Regions from separate parts of the Homo sapiens genome. Here region 1 is linked to region 2. Evidence: fine-mapped expression QTL. A gene starts in region 2. The other region holds a variant in brackets. All regions are shown on one strand. Distances are from middle to middle. Region 1 overlaps CCDC18-AS1 (CCDC18 antisense RNA 1). Region 2 holds the start of CCDC18-AS1 (CCDC18 antisense RNA 1).

Evidence for each region. PIP is the estimated chance that this variant, and not a neighbour inherited with it, causes the effect.
Region 1: its variant is fine-mapped to the expression of CCDC18-AS1 in blood mononuclear cells (TOPMed, PIP 0.97). The same link has a PIP of 0.9 or more in whole blood.

What each region holds. Positions count from the first base shown.
Region 1 is chr1:93,316,490-93,326,695 of GRCh38, forward strand. It overlaps CCDC18-AS1 (CCDC18 antisense RNA 1), which reads right to left. Exons shown (of 9, transcript NR_034089.1): 6 at 10,113-10,173; 7 at 9,280-9,406; 8 at 8,146-8,240. Among named protein-coding and RNA genes, the nearest start is that of CCDC18-AS1, 24 kb to the right of the region's middle. The variant T/C (reference allele first, on the strand shown) is at 5,821.
Region 2 is chr1:93,341,825-93,352,030 of GRCh38, forward strand. CCDC18-AS1 (CCDC18 antisense RNA 1) reads right to left here and starts at 3,987. Exons shown (of 9, transcript NR_034089.1): 1 at 3,900-3,987. It overlaps DR1 (down-regulator of transcription 1), which reads left to right and starts at 4,083. Exons shown (of 3, transcript NM_001938.3): 1 at 4,083-5,041. The coding sequence starts at 4,822. RefSeq lists enhancers at 3,678-4,213, 4,583-4,652, 4,713-4,922.

The DNA.
Region 1 (10,206 bases), 25 kb before region 2:
ATAGCTGGAACCCGGCAGGTGGAGGTTGCAGTGAGCCGAGATCGCACCACTGCATCCCAGCCTGGGAGACAGAGCGAGACTCCATCTCAAAAAAAAAAAAAAAAAAAAAAAAAAAAGAGCCAAAATATAAATCCACACATTTACAGCCAAACTTCTTCCACAAAGGCACCAAGAACATACAATGGGGAAAGGACAGTCTCTAATAAATGGTGCTGGGAAAACTTGATAACCATATGCAGAAGAATGAAACTAGACCCCTATCTCTTACCATATACAAAAATAAAATCAAAATGGATTAAATACTTAAATGTAAAACCTGAAACTGTGAAACTACGAAAATAAAACATTGAGGAAATGCTCCAAGATATTGGTCTGGGAAGATTTTTGTGGCCTCAAAAGCATAGGGAACCAAAGCAAAGTTGTCAACTGAGATTACATCAAGCTAAAAAGCTTCTGCACAGCAAAGGAGACAAATAATAATGTGAAGTGATCGCCCACGGAATGGGAAAAAAGATTTGCAAACTACCCATAATAAATAATTGTTAATTCTTTATTAATTTATTTAACCCTAACTGATTTTCCTGGCTATTAGGAAACTCAGAGCTTAATTTGTGGTTCATCTTTAAAAACTGAGCATGCTTTTGTGGTTGTGCTTATTATATATATTAACCTTATACATCTCTACTCCCAACAAAGCCAGCTTTATCTTATTTTATTCTGGTATTTTCTCTGCTAACCCATTAAATTATGGCCCCTTAGTGAACCACATCTCACAGTGTTCCCACATTTGTATGGTGCTTTTCCTTAAATATGGGCTAGGCCTGTGACTTGCTTCAACAAGTGGCATGTAGCAAAAGTGACACAGTGCCAATTCCAGGCCTCAACTTTAAGGAAGCCTGGCAGCTTCCGTTTTTGTGCTATTTGAAGCTCCGAGCCACATGTAGGAAGTTTGGCTACTCTGCTGCAGAGACCACATGGAAAGTGCTACATATGGAGGTCATGTAAAGAGGAAGAAGCCCTGAAACTACATGGAGAAAGAGAGAAACTCAGTTCAGCCTCCCAGTGTTCCAGCTGAGCCCAGCCTAGATTGTGGAATCATGAGCAAACTAATGAGTTAACCAATTAGGTAAAGAAGAAATAACCAAATGGTCCCATTCCAGAATGCCCACCCAAGCCCTTCCTCTTTCTTTAGGATGCTGTTTCTGAAAGTCTGGCCTGAAGACCACCTGTATCAGAATGACCTGGGGTGTTTATTTGAAAGAAAAATTGTCAATCCAACCCCAGAATTTCTTGGGCAAGGCAGGATAATCAGTATCTTTAACAAAACTTTTCCAATTGATTCATAAGGAAAATAAAGTTTAAGAACCTGGTTAAGGGCTTTCTCCTGACTGTTCTCCACACTAATCTAAGCCTACCCTTCTTTTTGACAGTCTATTACTCTATTTTCAGAAGTTTGATCCTGCTGTTCCTCAAATGCTGGACCAAAATTCTAGATCAAGGAATTTCTCATGCTATTTTCCTCTCACCTATCCAGCTCTGTTCTACTTGGTTCATTCACTCTGTATCCACCTTGTCTTCAGGAGCTCTGATTTTGAGGTGCTTCTCATGTCTCAGCTAAAGAAACTCAGGCCTAAAAAAACTGAAATCCCTGACTGTGCAGATTAGTTCTGGTTCTTACCTTATTTTTCAGGCCAGCCACATCAGCTGTCCTCATCCTTAAAGTATCATGATGAGAACTTCTGAAACCGAATACAGTTAAATATAAGGACAGAAAAATATCTGATGGTTTTGTCAATTAGATATTGGTAAACTCAGTGAGATCAATTTAGGGGTGCGTTAAAGGAAAAAGATTTTGCAGTAGGTTTAAGAAAGTTTTTAACAAGGTAGAAAAGACTGAGCATGCTTGCAGGTGGAGGAAAAAGAACCAGGAAGGAAGGAAAAGTTGGTAATAAAATAATGTGTGGTTGAGAAGGTAGCATGAACCAGAAGGGATGAGAATTGATTATAAAATAAGGTCCCAGACAAAGAGGGAAGGTGTTTTCAGTTTTCTATTGCTATATAATAAATTATCCCAAATTTACCCATTTTATTATATATCATGATTTGAGGGGCCAGAGATTTCGGCAGGGCTCAGCTGGGCAATTTCTCTGCCCCACGATATCCTATGTGGTTACTTGCCAGGTTTGCTGGTAGATGGGTTAGTCTCAAAATTCCAAGATTGCTTCATTCACATGTCTGATATCTTGGCAGGAGTGACTGGAAGGTTGGGCTCAGCTAAGAATGTCAATAAGAGCACCTACAGATGGTCTTTCCAGGGTACTCTTAGGGTGACTGGCCTTCTTACATGATGGTTCAAGCTTTCAGAGAGGATATTCCAAATATCCTGGGCAGAAACTATTGGTATAAGTCTTCTTATTACCTCATCTCTCGGATCCCAGAATGTCACTTCTGATTAATTCCGTTGGTCAAGTCACTGACTGGCCTTACTGACTCAGCCCAGATTCAAGGGAAAGGGAATTACACCCCACCTCTTGGTAGAAGTGTCAAAGAATTTACAGTCATTTTTAATCTGCTATAGAAGAGGTGAATTGGATAAGATCAGAGAATATAATAAAAGATTTGCCTTGGACATGAAGACAGAATACTGCTAAATGTTGGAGTATGCAGAACTCTGGTCCTCGGCTCCTCTCTTTCTATCCAAGTGTAGGGAATGCTATGCATTTACAAATTCGTAAACTTTCTTAAAACATTATGAGATATTGTGTGTGTGTGTGTGTGTGTGTGTGTGTGTGTGTGTGTGTGTGTGTGTGTGTGTTCTATCCCAGAGTAGGGAATGCTATACATTTATAAATTCGTAAACGTTCTTAAAACATTATGAGATATTTTGTGTGTGTGTGTGTGTGTGTGTGTGTGTGTGTGTAGCTCATCAGCTATTGTTAGTGTTAGTGTATTTTACGTGTGGCCCAAGACAATTCTTCTTCCAACATGGCCCAGGGAAGCCAAAAGATTGGATACCCCTTCTATATTGTCTCCCTAGGTGATCTCGTCTAGACTCATTGCTTCAAAGAACTTTATATACTGATACCTTTCAAGTGTATATCTCTAGACCCAAGCTCCTTGCCTGAGCTCCAGAACTTGTATATCCAACTATCTACTCAGCATATAACTTGGATGTCTAATAAGCATCTCAAATTTAACATGGCCAAAACCAAGCTATCGGATTTCTATCACACCCCAAGTCTGCTTCCCCTGAGCCTTTCCGGTCCTAGTAAATTACACAATTATACACTCAGTTGCTCAGGACAAATACCTAGGAGCCCTATTTGTCTCTTCTCTTTTCCTCACACAGCACATTCAATCCATCAGTATCTACTTCCAATTCATCAATAGGTTCCATTAGCTCCAACTTCCAAAATATATTCTGAACCTAACCACTTCTTTCCATCTCTACTCTTCCAATCTAGGTCAATGCCATCATCACTTCTCACTGGTCTCTGTGGCTGCACTCTTGATTCCTCATTGTCCTTCCTCTATCCACATAGCAGCCAGAGTCATATTTCTAAAGCGTAAACCAGAGAATATAATTTCCTTGCTTAAAATTATCTAAAGACTTCCCATTGCATCAGAATAATCAACAAACTTCTCATCAGAGTCTATGAGGCTCTCCAAATCTTGCCCCATCTGTGTCTCTGACCTCATCTCTCTCCACTCTTCTCCTTGTTCATTGAGCTCTAACCACTCTGATACTCTGTCCCATGAACACACCAAGTTTGTTCATGCTTCAGGCCATCCCACCTCTTGCTCATTCTGCTTGGAGAGCCCCCCGGATCTCTTTTTATCACTTGGGTAATAAAAAGATTCCTTGTTTTTATCACTTGGGTCAGTGGTCCCCAACCTTTTTGGCATGAGGGAACAGCTTCATGGAAGACAATTTTTTCCATGGACTAGGGTTATGGGGGATGGTTTTGGGATGATTCAAACACATTACATTTATTGTGCACTTTATGTATATTATTATTGCATTGTAATATATAATGAAATAATTATACAACCCACCATAATGTAGAATCAGTGGAAACCCTGAACCTGTTGCAACTAGAAAGTCCCATCTGGGAGTGATGGTAGACAGTGACAGATCATCAGGCATTAGATTCTCGTAAGGATCATGCAACCTAGATCCCTTAAATGCACATTTCACAACAGGGTTTGCCCTCCTATGAGAATCTAACGCCTCTGCTGATCTGATAGGATGCAGAGCTCAGGCAGTAATGCGAGTAATGCGAGTGGTGGGGAATGGCTATAAATACAGATAAAACTTCGCATTCACATGCTGCTCACCTCCTGCTGTGCAGGCCGGTTGCTAACAGGCCACAGACTTGTATGGGTCTGTGGCCTGGGGGTTGAGGACCCCTGATTTAGGTGATACAAAGTGACTCAGATGTCACTTTCTCAGCCCTTTCCTGACTATCACAGCTAATGTAGTATCCCATCTCCCTGAGTCACTTTTCTCACAATACCCTATTATAGCTTCATAATGTTGATCAGCACCTGAAGTTCTAATTCATTTTTTTCTGTATGTTTATTGGCTGTCATCCCTCATTAGAACGTCAACTCCTGGGGGGCACAATTGCTGTCTGTCTTATTTACAGCTCATTCTCCAGTACCTTGAACATCACAGACAACAAAATCAACACACAATAGATGTTTATTTAAATTGGCTATTTCTTTCTTCTGGAAGGAGGTTAAAGGAAGGTGGGAAAGGCAGGGCGTGGTGGCTCACGCCTGTAATCCCAGCACTTTGGGAGGCCAAGGCAGAAGGATCACTTCAGGTCAGGAGTTCCAAACCAGCCTGGCCAACATGGTCAAACTCCATCTCTACTAAAAATACAAAAATTAGCCAGGCGTGGTGGCATACACCTGTAATCCCAGCTACTCAGGAGGCTGAGGCAGGAGAATTGCTTGAACCCGGGAGGCGGAGGTTGCAGTGAGCTGAGATCGCACCACTGCACTCCAACCTGGGCGTTAGAGCGAGACATCGTCTAAAAAAAAAAAAAGGGTGGGAAAAAGAAGGAAGACCCCCTTTTCTCTGTGATTTGGGACATAAAGTGGCTGATAATGAGAAACAGTGGGACAGGGTTTTAAGAAGGGTAATGAATTATTCTTGACTCTTCCTTCAAAAGTTGTATTTGTAAAAAACCAGTAGTTGAGAGTTTTGTTGTTTCAATTCTAATTATCATTTCTTAAAAAGTAATTTTATGGAAGAAACAATTTGAATTTTTACCCCTTTAGGTAGCATTGGCTTTCAAAAACACCAATCTCATGTCTTTTACATTCTTGGCCTGGAATTGAATTATGTGAATCTACTGGTTTTGTTTTCCACCCTCTTTATAAGATCTGCTATATCTGGTCCTGATAACACAAGGTCAAGGTCCAGGAAAGAACAAATGTCAATGCTTTCTTTCCTCATGGCCCTTCATTATAGCCTTAGTGAGTCCTTTCACGCATCCATGTCCACACATCTCTGTTTCTCATCAATACAGCCTGTGTGTTTTGAAAGCATGCAATTTATGCCTTTATATCCCTGCTTCTCTTTTTCCTATCAGCAAAATCTATGTGTTTTTTAGGAATTAAATAAGTATATTTTTCTTATATGTATTGGTCATTTTCTATATTTGAACAGTAAGTTCTACTCAACGTATATCTGTGCTGCAAAATTAATTTTCGTACTCAAATTTTGAATGGTGTTTCTTAAAATGACTTTTTTAACACTTTCTAATGAGGTGGTTTTTATTGGCTGACATATACCATTCCTCTAGAATG[T/C]TGCTGTGAACTAGATGTGAATTTATGAAGGTGATGAAAATAGCAATTAAGCTAAGAACTACTTCTGGCAGGTAAGAGCATGGTTAATTATTTTCCTTAAAGAAATGCACAAATATATTAGGTTGGTGCAAAAGTAATGGCATTGAAAGCAATGGCAAAAACCGCAATTACTTTCGCATTAGCCAAATACATAGCCAAACAACTTTTGGAAGCCAGACTAACCTGCTGGACATGCTGAACCAGTTTTAGTCTATTCCAAAAGTGGAAAGCGACATGTATGATTCATTCCTGAGACATTTCAAAGAGCCAAATATGTTTATACATGATATAGCATGTCAATATCTTCATGAAAGCTTTTGACTTGCCTTTTTACAAAAGTCTATATGCTGTTTACAAGTGTGGCTTAAGAACCAGAATGGACATGGACATGCATTGGTAACTGGTCAGCAACCAGGTAAATTCCTGTAGCGTCTTTGCTCCTAGCCTACAAATGGGCTTTTTAAGAATAAGCCTCTCACCAAGAACCCACCAAGAGCATTAAGAAATGAAAACATTGCTCAGACCTCTTTTAGCCTGCTCCCGATCTGGAATCTTGATTAGAGAACTTATTTTTAGAGTTTTCCGCATTTGTTCAACTACATGTGTAGGAGGAAAGAACACAGTATCAGTCCGAATGTGTGTCTGTGACTGTTCTCTCGCAAACTGGGGGCTGGAAGTTTAGGGAAACTGTTTTCTCGGATCCAAGCAGAATCTGGATGTAAACCATTTCTAGACTAATATCGGTTTAATTAATTCTTGTGAATCTCCAAAGATTCTACAGCTTGTTTTGGGATACAGCAATTGTTACACCAACCCACCCAATGTAACCTTTATTTTCTGAGGCCACACTTGGGGATTTTGGGTACATGGATAACAAGTTCCCACCCTGTCCTTTCTTTATAAGGACAACCAACGTGTGAGGTTTCTCCCATTTTCATGGGTCCCGAGTGGCCTCCCAGCCCTGGGAGCTTTCTCACCCTTCTGCCAAGGCTCCAGCCAGGACTCTGCACTAGTTCTCCCCCTGCTCCTGCTGGGGCTCTACTCAAAGTTGATAGGGGTGGGGTAGGGAGAGGGATTCCTACCTCCTTCCTTCTGGTGCTTGTAACAGCTCTCTGAGCTGAAAGCTGGCCCTTAGGCTAACTCAATTTAATCCTCCAAGAGGCAGTCTTTTTCTTTAAGCTTTTCTTCAGTTCTTTATTAAAGACTTAAGTTTTCTCAGAGACTAGGCCAGAGAAACGTTGAACTGTATCATAACAAATAATTCATCACATGCAGACAGCTGCTGTCCTAACACTAGCCACAAATCTTAGTTTTCTGCTACCTTAGATGAATTTCCTGCCCTCCCAGGCAGCCCCATTCACTTTCCCTCAAAATGGCTGGAAAAAGTCTCTTCTTATTTGGTTTAGGAAATATAATCATGGTATTCTAGGGTAATAATCATCACTCCAAATTCTTGTATCATTTCTTCCAAGAAGCTTTGAGACCCTCATGCAAATAATACTCTCTTATTCTGATATCTCTGCCTTTCCAAAGTGAACTTGTAGTTTATATATCTTTCTTTTCCCCTATTTGACTAAGGTGGGCCTTGTCCATACAGAATCTTCAACACTGTCCCAAGCTTCATAGAATTCCCAAGGAACTATAGTATGCACCTATGCCCTGTTCTGCACAGCAACTTGGCACCAGCTTCTTCTTTCCACTAGTCTCAACTTATTACAGTCCTTCCACCCCAACCAACTCCTACACTCAAGATCTTGACTACAGAGCTCTGGAATATTAAAAGCAACCACCACTAGCATACTGTGTGCAGAAAAAAAAAAAGTTTGGAACCCTTGGATTTAAATGATTTAGCAAAGACAGAAAAAAAAAATGTATGCTTTGGAGGCAAAATAAGTAAGATTTTCAAATCAGTATTCAAAAATACTTTTTCATTGTCTATTAATTGCAAACAAAACAGGATTTTAGTTTGTCACCACCATAATCCAAGCCCCTATCATGTCTTGCCTAGACTCCTAAAATAATTTTCCTACTTGTATTCTTTCCACCTCCCAACACATTCTCCACACAATATAGTGCTCTTTTAAAACTAAGTCATGTCACTTCCTTGTTTAAATCCTTTTGATGGCTGCCCATTTGACACAGCATAGAGTCAAACTCCTACCATAATCGTAATGGTAGTAATTAATAATAATAATAGATAAGAATAGTAGTAGGTTACCCCTATTATTCCCTATCATTGGACTTTGTTACTTCCTTCACAACATTAATTTCATTGTATTTACTTACTTGTATGTTGTTTGTCTCCCCAGCTTGAATATGAGCTTTCCAAAAGCATCAGCACTGTTTGTCTTATGTTGGATCCTTATCTCCCAGCATGGTGCCTGGTACGTATTAAGCAATCAGTAAATGTTTATTAAGAGAATAAAGTTTTAGGATTTAAAAGTAACTTAGAAACCATCGAATCCATCTAGTCCCTTTCCCCAATTCAGGGCTTAATTTTCAGCCCTCTGTAATGCAGAGGCTACTTGGATAGCAGTGTTTATGCTGGTGGAGAACAAAAAAGAACAATAGGGAGGAGCTGTTCCCTTTCCCTAATTGATTTTACCTTACTTGTTCCTACATCAGCTTTGCTTTTTACCACTTAGACAAACAGTCATATGAGTCATTTATTCATAGCCAAGCAGCTTAATCATGCATGTGGGCACTCCTTTTTGTGTGTATGTGGAGGGTGGAGAGTTATAGTTGAGTAGTTTCCAAACTAATGTTCATCTAGCTATTTGTGGAATCGTAAAGATTTTGTCTATTAGAGGCATGAGCCACCGCGCCCAGCCTATGCTCCCTCTAACAATTCTTTAATGTAGTATTTTCTAAATTATAAGCTTTGACTCATCATTGCGTATCATAAAGATAACTATGGTCTCATGAACTTTCGTTTCAGTCATAAATGTGACTGTATGTGTTTGAACTGTCTTGCTATAGATGCAAAATATATTTCTTACTGTGGGAAATAAACAACAAAAGTCTGAAAGCCACTGCCTAAATGAGCATTAATATAATATCTTATCTTAGAAAGGAGACTATTTGGTAGTCCTAGGAGAGGATTTGGGTTGACCTCAGAGCCCTCTTAGTCAGGGCTCTGAAGCTATTATGGATTAAGGTGAATGAGAATGGTAATTCTTTCTTTCTTTCTTTTTTTTTTGAGATGGAGTTGCCCAGGCTGGAGTGCAGTGGCAAGATCTCGGCTCACTGCAACCTCCGCCTCCTAGGTTCAAGCAATTCTCCTGCCTCAGCCTCCCAAGTAGCTGGGATTACAGGCATGTGCCAGCATGCCTGGCTAATTTTTATATTTTTAGTAGAGGCAGGGTTTTGCCATGTTGGCCAGGCTGGTCTCAGACTCCTGATCTCAAGTGATTCACTCACCTCGGCCTCTCAAAGTGCTGGGATTACAGGCATGAACCACCACGTCTAGCCTTTTCTAAGTGAAAGCACTATTTTATAGCTTGCAAACACTGTTAGAAAAATCTTCTGGAAGCACGGTATCAGTTATCTGAAATACATTACAAATACAACAAACACATTATTATTTTCATTAGTTCTCCATTACTTTTTTCCTTTGGCCCAACAGATTAGTACCAAAATGGCCTGGGGTCTAGTAAAAGTTGGGGAACAGGGGAAATGGGTGAAGAGAATTAGGCCCAAAAAGAACATGATGGGCTATCCTTTTTGTGCCAATTTCCTTCTTATCGCTTCTTTTTTTTTTTTTTTTTTTCCTTTTTGAGATGGAGTTTCCCTCTTGTTGCCCAGGCTGGAGTGTAATGGTGCGATCTCGGCTCACCGCAACCTCTGCCTCCTGGGTTCAAGAGATTCTCCTGCCTCAGCCTCCCGAGTAGCTGGGATTACAGGCATGTGCCACCACACCCGGCTAATTTTGTATTTTTAGTAGCGATGGGGTTTCTTCATGTTGGTCAGGCTGGTCTTGAACTCCCGGCCTCAGGTGATCCACCCGCCTCAGCCTCCCAAAGTGCTGGGATTTCAGGAATGAGCCACCGCGCCCAGCCCATGGCTTCTCCTTTTACAGTGAAATAGGAAACAAGATCATCTGCTGAGAATGAGGATGAGGGAGGAGGTATTGAAGGCTTGAGAAAAGAAAAGGCAAGAGGTAGTGGAAGAGTGAATGGACTAAGGAAACATAGTCTGGCTATGGGCAGCATTAAGGGATATGTATTTAAAGCAGGTCCAGTGAACATGTTTACCTGTTCAGCTGTGAGATGCAGTAGTTAGAGAGCTGACTTTTACCAGAGATGAAAGGAAATTCTATTTAGGGAAAGAGAAGAGCATAAACAAAGT
Region 2 (10,206 bases):
ACATGCGAACTCAAACTAATCTTTTTAAACATTATTGTTTATGTCATCCCCCTTCTCAAAAATGTTCACTAACTCTTTCCACTGCTTACAAAAGGATCTCCAGACTTCTTAAAATGATGTGGAAAGACTTGAGACTTTGTAGTCAGAAAGCTTGGGTTGCATTTCCAATCTGCCACTTATTCACTCTGTGACCTTGAATAATCTCACTGGGCTTCAATTTTCCCATCCATCAATTGGGATTAATGACTAGTTATAAAGACCAAATACATGTGAAAGTGCTTTATATTTTTAAAGTCCTATAATGAATATAACCTTTTTTCCTTTTTTTTTTTAATTTAGAGATAGTTACCAAATTACAAATAGCTTCAGCTTTGGAGTTAAGTAACAACCTGGTTTGAAATTTCAGCTCCATTACTTATTATCTGTGAGACTTTGAACAAATTAGTAAAACTCTCTGAGACTGTTTTCCCCCCATGTCAAAACACCTATTTTGCATGGCTATATGGAAATTAAATGAAATAGCAAATATGAAAAACTTTTGGCCCAGTGTATAATTCATATCAGGCACTGATCTGTTTTCTTTTTGCCCTAACCTACTTTTCCTGCATCATATACCACTACACCTCTTTACAAACCTTATTAATAGAGCCACTCTAGACTACTTTATTTCCCCAAGCCATACAATGTACTTTTGTGTTTTTTCTTCAGCTACATGCTCTTTCCTTCCCTATCAAAATTGTACTCAATCTTCAAGGTGCAGTTAAAATATCCAGTCCTCCATAAAACCCTTTGTACTCCACAACTAGTGTGTTAATCACTTCTTCCCATGCATTCTTAGCCTGTATATTTTATCACAATATTTATTTGAATCTGGTTTATATTCTGCTTCTCCCACCAGATTATAGGGTCTTCAAGAACAAGGTGGGAGTTATATTCATCTTTATTTCTCCCACATCATAGTCAGGACACTAGACAGTTATTGAATGAATGTAGAAATCAGATGCTGTCTTCTCTTTCCACTTTCTATAGGACACCACTTCTACAAATGCCTGCCCAAACATGTGCAAAAGCAAGCACATCTTCTCTAAACAGCTCCCTTTCAACTCCACTGTTTTTGACAGTGACACTCCCCTAACCCTACTCTGAGGCTAAACTTTTTTTTTCCTTTTCTTGAGGCAGGGTCTCACTCTGTCACCTAGGCTGGAGTGTAGTAGTGTCATGGCTCACTGCAGCCTCAGCCTCCTGGGCTCAAGTGATCCTGCCACCTCAGCCTCCCAAGTAGGTAGGATCACAGGTGTGCACTACCACACCTAGACAACATGAAAAAAAAAAGTTTCATATATATGCATTCTCTCTGAAACTCTTAAAGCTTAATAAGGAGATGTTCTCTTTGTCCTTAAAAGCCTATTTATAATACAGATACATGTAGTGTACTATAAATAACTATTTAAATATGGGCTACAGATTAGCATATTTTATGACATATCACACTGGTATTTATATCCAATTAAATTTCTCTCAGCCACGTATGTAATAAACTAGTTACATGGTTCATTACTAGTTGAAGACTGACCAAGCCTGATAAAGATGATAAAAGACACTAACATTATATAACACTTCATACTATAAAAAGTACTTTCACACAACTCTCATTTGATTTTGAATCCTGTGTGTTACATAATATTTCTATATCTGAACTGAAGAAAATGAGGCTTGGAGAGTGACTTGTCTAAGTAAAAAAAAAAGCTGGGACTGGAACCTACAACTCTTACTACACATTCAATTCTGTTTATGCTACCACAGAAGCCTGTAGCAATAAACTATTACTGAAATAATGTGTGCTCTACTCGTCTATTTAGCATAAGTCTATAAACATAAATGTTACATGAAAAAGCAAAGTTATAGTTTTTTCAGGAGAGACAAGATAAGGGTCAGTGACACTGTGACAACTTGGGACATTTTTTGCCAGCCAGCTTTTTCAGACGGATAAACTTGTTAAGGTCAAGATAAATTTAGGCACCATAATAAATCTTTAAATCAACAGTAAACTGACAAAAAAAAACAAACCCACCACTTCATAAAGTATTTTTTTTTTTTTGAGATAGAGTCGTGCTCTGTCTCCCAGGCTGGAGTGTAGTGGTACGATCTTGGCTCACTACAAGTTTTGCCTCCAGAGTTCAAGCGATTCTCCTGTCTCAGCCTCCCAAGTAACTGGGATTACAGGTGCCCACCACCACACCCAGCTAATTTTTGTATTTTTAGAAGAGGTGAGGTTTCACCATGTTGGCCAGGCTGGTCTCGAACTCCTGAGCTTAAGTGATCCGCCCCCCTTGGCCTCTCAAAAGTGCTGGTATTACAAGCATGAGCCACCATGCCCAGCCTGAAGAAAATTTAATTAAAATACTGTTTTTAATCAAAGAAATTTTGTTTTGACTAAATTTAGTAGCACTGAAAAACAAGTGTCTACACTTCAGAAATTAAAGAACCAGTAAGTTGTCCTGCAGAAAATGCTAAATGAAAAAATAGCATAATAAACTGTAATGTCTTCTTGAGAGCAGCATATAGGGCTCAGACAGAACGTTTTAAGAAAACACTGTCAACAAGCCAGTTGCCATCATATGTATCAAGAGTAATGAATCTGATGAACCAAAGTGACAAAATGGATTTCAACAGTGTCTTGTTTAGTTTTTAGAAATTCCAACATCCCACTATTTATAGTATAGCCTCTTCTTCCACATGACAGTATGACAGACTCAGTTTTTTTACTTTTTTTTTTTTTTTATCTTTTTTGAGACAAAGAATCTTGTTCTGTCACCCAGGCTGGAAGTGCAGTGGCACAACCGCAACTCACTGCAGCCTTGACCCCCTGGCTCAATCGATCCTCCCACCTCGCCCTCCAGAGTAGCCGGGACTACGGGTGCCTGCCACCAAGCCTGGTGAAAAAAAAACCCGTGTTTCATATTGTCATATAGAAGAGGCTATACTATAAACAGTGGGATGTTGGAATATATATTTATATATATAAATATATATTATATATATATATATATATATTTTTTTTTTTTGTAGGGACGGGTCTCACTATGTTGCCCAGGCGGGTCTTGAACTCCTGGGCTCATGTGATCCCCCTGCCTCAGCCTCCCAAAGTGTTGGGTTTACAGGTATGATGAGCCACAACGCCTGGCTGACACACTTTTTTTTTTTTTAAATGCAATTTCTGTTTAGACCTTGACACCTGTTGATATTACTAGTCACTATGGAAAGAAGTAAAAACAGTTGCTTAAGATGCTCTAACACTTTTTTCCCCTGTAGAAGCCAACATGGAATACAACATGAAAACTGTCTAAATGGGAACCTTCTAATATAGCTCATTGTATGCCATGCATTTCCACTCCATTTCCACTATGTTGGAACTGACTTCTGCTTTCCTACTTAGCCATTAGGCGACTTAGTTGCCTCTAGGCAAGTAACTTCTCTGAAATGTTTCATTTTTCATGAAGTTTAAAAAAAAAAAGGTGAAGGACTTTAGAGAGCTTTGAACCGAATAAGGTCTATCAGACATCTTGAAAAGCTTTTTCTCCAGACGACGCAGAAACAGGCACACGGGGTTCTGCTTTCCCCACCTCCCACCCCCAAGCCCAGGTCCCATTCTTCTCACTTTCAATCCTCATTTGGGCTCCTAAAGGAATAGCAAAGAGAGTTATTTTATCAATACCAGCGCTCCTCTGTCCCCAAATCCAGCTAGGGAAGGTTTCGGAGGCCTCAGCTACTTGAGAGAGGGTAGAGACGATCCTTCCTCGCCTATCTACCCAGCCACCCACCCCTTCCCAGATGTAGCGTCCGGGCCCCAGACCAAGCGCGTGCTTGGAGCTCTCCGGTACAGTGAGGCGCGCGCTTGCCTGGCTAGGGTCCCTGTGAAGGAATGGGATCCCGAGGTGCTTGCCAGGACCGTAGCAGGCGGAAGCTGCTGGCAGCGCGAACGGGCGGCTCCCGCCGGCGTGGGTGGGGGAAGGGCGGCAGCCACACCCGGAAGTCGGTCCGGGAGGGAGGGGGAAATCTGAGGGAACGAGGCTTCCGGTGGCGCAAAGGGTGTCGGGAGCGGCTTCCTGCAAACCTTCCCTGGCATCTGGAGGGACCACCGTTGCCGCGTCTTCGGCTTCCACGATCTGCGTTCGGGCTACGCGGCCACGGCGGCAGCCACTGCGACTCCCACTGTGCCTGGCTCTGTCCATATTAGTTCCCAGGCGGCCGTCGCCGTTCCAGCAGCGGCAGCGGCAGCGGCAGCGGCGGACATGTTGTGAGGCGGCGGCGCGGGTGTCTGAAGGATGGTTTGGCCGAGGCGGCGGCAACGGCTGCTGGCGGCGGCGGCAGCGGCAGCGGGGCCTCGGGCTCTATAGAGCCGAGCCCGCTGGGTACCCGCCCGGTACCGCGGCGAGGCCAGTGCCCCTGGATCTTGCCTCTGCTCCGACGCCGTTGGGGACCAGTTAGGCGACAGCGCCCGCCCCTCTGAGGAGACACGAAGGTGGTTCCCCAGCCGCTCAAATTTCCGGACCACCGCGCTTTCCCCTCCTCAGCCTGGGCTGTGCTCTCTCTAGAATCCTCGGGCCCCCACTTTCTTCCCAAACTCATCCTAAATCTCTCACACACGCGAGTGTTCCCAGCCCTCAAGCCAGCTGCTCCTCCGTTCATTTTCTGCACCCTCTTCGCAAAGCACCCCCCGGGATCACTCTCCGAGGGCGACTTTTTGAGAAATCTCGGTGGAGTAGTGGACCAGAGCTGGGGAGTTTTTAAAAGCCGGGGCGCGAGAAACAGGAAGGTACTATGGCTTCCTCGTCTGGCAACGATGATGATCTCACTATCCCCAGAGCTGCTATCAATAAAATGATCAAAGAGACTCTTCCTAATGTCCGGGTGGCCAACGATGCTCGAGAGCTGGTGGTGAACTGCTGCACTGAATTCATTCACCTTATATCTTCTGAAGCCAATGAGATTTGTAACAAATCGGAAAAGAAGACCATCTCACCAGAGCATGTCATACAAGGTAAGTCGTGTGTGAGAGCTGGTTTGAATGAGGTTCTAGGGTAGCAGTCTGCTAATCGCGTGACCCTTTCGTGTCAAAGCCTCCATTCCTCTTCCCTGGTAAGTAACTTAATGAAAAAGCCAGACTGGCATGTAGGCAGCCGGTGCTTTAAAAACAATCCCTTTGTAGCATTTTTGCAGTACTTTTCATCCAGCGAATACATGTAAGGAGTGCAAACATTTAGGTCAGCGTCCCCAAAACGTAAAGAATAAGAGTGATCTCACTTTACAGCCAGGTAAGCCGAAGCAACAAGAATTACTTGCCTGAAGTTGAACTTAGATAATAATTAAGGAACGCAGAAATTCTCCTTTGGAAAGTTAAAATTCAGACGGAGGAACTTCAACGTGGGTGGAGACAGAGCACCCCCTTCCCCACCTGACCTTTCACCAATGTAGAGGAAAAGATTTATTTTCTGAACACATGAGTTAAAAAATTCTTAACATACAATGTGTTCAACGTTGTCAAGTTTATCGTTGTTAAATAAAAGGTGTATGTTTTCTGCTCTAAAAATGGTTTGATGGTACGTTCATGAATGAGTTACCAAATAACTCCTGTTCCATTCTGTAAGAATAGGGTGAACTTTAAATTTTCGTTTTTTTCTTTTCGTTTGCTTTTATGTCGTTTGCTTTGTTCTATTCTGTGGAGATAAGTTTTGAAATCTTTGATTGAAAGTTTATGCAAGTTTTTTTTTTAACGGAAAATTTCCCCGTCCTTTCCTGCTGTCATTCCTATTTGAATGTATACACTTAGGCTTTTATGGAACAGCACTTCTGAAAACTTCAACAGTTTCTTTTATCCTGGAAAGGATTTGGTCCCGTAATAGGGATTTGGGGGACTGTATTCTGGTGGTTTCAGAGAGGAGAAACATATTTACTATTCATAATGTTTCGGGAACGTACCTTTTGCGATATTTTTACATGTACTCTTGTGAAAGAGTTGTACTCAATTTGAGGTGAGAACTTGCCTTTTGTAATAATCTAATTAAAGTTATTGATTGCTTGTGAAATCAGGGAAAAATGATTAATTTTAATCATTTTGATAGGCAGGTGGTTGTCTATCACTTAATTTTTATAATTTAACTTTTTAAAATGTGACTTTCCTGTTGTACTGAAGTAGAGAACACATCTGCTTATATTGACCATATCCAATATTTTACTCTCAGTATTGACAAAAGGATTAAATGATTCATTTTTAATCCTTTATGACGTCTTGAAAGTAGTTTTAAAATATATCCTGCCATTTCAGTACACAAGCAGAAAAATCCCTAGGAAAAAGCATATTTGATTCTTAAAACTAGTACTAGTTTTTTTTTTTTCTACTTGTTTGGTGTGCTGAATACTCTAGCAAGTAAAATGAAAGCCAAGTTGTCTATTTTTTCCCTTGTGTATTTATTTTTACATTGTATGTGTGATTGCTGTCATAAGTCTTTCACAAGATTATCCAGCACAGATAGCTATAATTTCTTTTTACAACTCTTAAAAAGGAAAAAGAACCTTTATCAACATTGCCTTTCTAATGAAAATTGCAAAAGATTTCAGCAGGGTCTGCCTAAACATTTGTTTACACTACAGAAGTGGGGATCGTTCCAAAAACCTAATAACACATTACAGTCTGTCTTCTTGGGGAGAGTTGATTCTTTTCTAGGATATATTTAGATTTCTGATTGACATGATGGAATAGAAGTGCAGCTGTAGCAAGCAGTATGCTAAATAATTCAACTTTGGAATATGCTAAATTCAGTTTAATGTGTGAGTCAGAAAGCTATAGTGAAAAAGCATTTCCATTGTGTAATGAAGATGATTTGTTTTTAAAAATCATGTATTGACGTGTTACCTTAAATTTAAAAATTTACCTTTTTTTCTTGTATTATGCTATTCTTAAAAGTGGTTAAGAATCTACATTTTCGCCCAAGAATTCTCCCTAGTTGGGGTTGTAGACTTTATACATTTATAATCTCATATTGCTTAATTATTCCAAAGAAGTTTTGTTTTGAGAGATTACATTTTTAAAGAAATTCTTAAGGTTTATATGTTTTAGGTGTTTGAAGTGTGTGCCTATACACTAATCATAATAGGACATTTTTATACTTTTCTGTCAGCATTGATTAGGAATGTAGAATATATCCAAATGGAATAAGTAATGTACATTTTAAAGTGATATGATTCTCACATGTTGAAGTTTGGGTTTTTAGTGATAAGTTTAATGAATTAGACTTTGCTTCAGGACATTTCACTTGTTCATTTCTCACCTTGCTTTATCTTGTCTGAGCAAATTAAGCATTCTGAGATAGTTCTGTAAAATGCAAGTTAAAGTTGAACTAATTTTATCACCAGTATATCTATGAAATAACTTATTTAAAAAAATTTTTTTTTCTGTTTTGCTTATTTTGAGTTTAAGAAAGTAGACTTGGTATTGAAGACCATAGATACATGAATAGAGGGAGTTCTAAGCTATAAAAGGTGTTCCTATTTTGTTGCAGTTTTTTGTGAACACGTATTCTTGAATGAGTTCTAACATGTTCTGTTGCCTTATAGAAAGAATTGACATTGAGAGTCAGCTGTAAGTTCCGCACTGAGAATTCTTTAACCTTAGGGAAATCTTTTAACTAAGGTTTTCTTATTTGTGTACAAATAATACTTGATTTCAGGTATTACTTGTAATTTTTGAGAATTAGTCAGGGGTTGAGAACCTTACATGAAATATCTCCCCTCACATTTATGAGAATTGTAACTGAAAGTAGTAAAAGTTTGAAAGAGTATCTGAGAATTTGCGTCTTCAGCTGTTGAGTTGCTCCAAGCTGTCTTACGTTGAAGGAATTTTTAAAAAATTCCTGTCCTTCTCACACTAGTAGCTTTGTAAGATAACATGAAAATAGATCACTGGAAAAGATGAGGGAAAGACCAACACTCAATTTTTTACTATTTGATTCAATAGACATAAAATTATTTTGTCAAATTGCAATGAAGGTACTTAAATGCTTTGAATTTCCATACTTAACTAATGTTAACCATTAGGAGCAGTTTTGGCATAAGTCCATGGACCACAGTTTGAGAACCTTTGCTCTAAAGCCTAAACCAGTCTCTGTTGGAAAGTGGACGTAAGTAGTAAATAATCGTTTATACAGATATTTTTTCCGAAGGGACACATCTAATTTGCACTGCAAAATTTATCACATAATCAAATGCTTTTCAAGTTAGGATTTTATTAATACTTTTCTTTAAATTAATATATCTTTTATTTCTGTTTTCCTTCTGCCACCCCACAATTACTTATTGAATACTACCAATTATTTGGCATCATGCTAGGTACTACTAAGGATATTAAGATAAATGATACTCAATTCCTTCTCTGCCATTAGTCTCTCATTGTTGTCCAAGATTTCCAGTAGTGATACCATGGAGGACATGGTTCTTAAGGGGTTTCAGAAACCTTTGCCAGGCTAATGAGCCAAGAAGTCACTTTGGCCTACATCCTCTTAATGTATTTTATGTGAAATACATTAGTTGCTTCCTTCCCACAAACAAAAGAAAATGGAGAAATTAGAGAATGCTGATTTATATAGTATTTAAAAGGTACTGTATATCACGTAATTTTACAAATGAAAAACATGTTTTATGCATATGAAGTATAAAGTGAGTCACATAAATTCATGTTATGACAGAACCTTTCAGGAGTACATCACTTTGTAAAATAAGATAAGCCTATATGAAGATTATTGTTGCTTCAAAGAAATTTTTACTTCTTTTTTGTTTTTTTAATAGCTGTCTTGTTAACATCTGTCTTTTAAGCTGAAAAATGTGCAAAGTATTTTTTCCCCTAATGTACACCATGGACTTTTCTGGTTGTAGTTTTGAGATACACGGCATAGGGTGACAGATAGTGATGTGTGTTAATTTTACTCACAAATTTTTAAAAAAATATTTTTCTGTTTTGGAAAGATGAGATCCTTAGAAATAGGGCCATGAATAGTCCATAAGGTCTCTGTACAAATTAGAAAAAGGCACTCCTTCCTTAAAAAGCATTACTACTGTCTGCCAGAAAAAGTATCACAGTAAACATACGAATTTATGGTATTTACAATAAGAATGGCCCTCTAGTATGTTGTGTACTGAACAACCTACCTAACTGTATGTAAATGGTGGCCCTGCTTGGGAGCCATTTCCTTTATCCTTTAATATTCTCTTTGTGTAAAATGGGAATGATAACTAATACATGATAGCAAATAATGTAAAATATCTCTCTATTTAGAAGGTATTATGTCCAGTTATTGATATCTGTTAGCCCAATGTGTTTAAAATTAAAGTCAATGAAATTTTTGAAATTAAATTTATGGCTGCTCCTTTTCAACCATTTTGTTGAGAGTATAGTTTTTACGTATGGCAACTCTTTGAATAATATTAAATATTAACCTTGGACCTACTTGAAAGCAGTGTTCTCAGCCTTAAATGTTTTTAAAGGTAGTTATATATTTAAAAAAAATTCTTAATCCAAGCCCTCCATGGTTAAAAATAGCTTGGATTGGATTTTCTTTCTTTTTTTTTTTTTTTTTTTTTTTGAGACAGAGTCACGCTGTCAGGCTGGAGTGCAGTGGTGTGACCTCGGCTCTCTACAAGCTCTGCCTCCCGGGTTCAAGCAATTCTCATGCCTTAGCCTCCTGAGTAGCTGGGATTACAGGCGTGTGCCACCACGCCTGGCTAATTTTTCTGTTTTTTGTAGAGACAATGTGTTGCCATGTGGGCCAGGCTTGTCTCTAACTCCTGACTTCAAGTAATCCCCGTGCCTTGGCCTCCCAGAGTGCTGGGATTACAGGCATGAGCCACCATGGTCGGCTGGCTTGGATATCCTTAATGTCTAGTATAGTAACTATGGTATTTTGAAGGGTTGTCTCTCCATTGTGTTGATTTGTTAATTTTATAAATTTGATATTTTATAAATATGCTTGTCCAGCTTGTATTTAAATATGATATTGTATAGCTATACATTTATTTAGGTCCTGTACACTTATGAGGGTACTCTTTTAAATTTAAAATAAAAAATACAGATGAGAAATACATAGTCTGAGTTGGTTAAGTGATTCTTAGGTGCTAGACACTGTCAAACGCCTTATATTAATTACCTGTTGATTC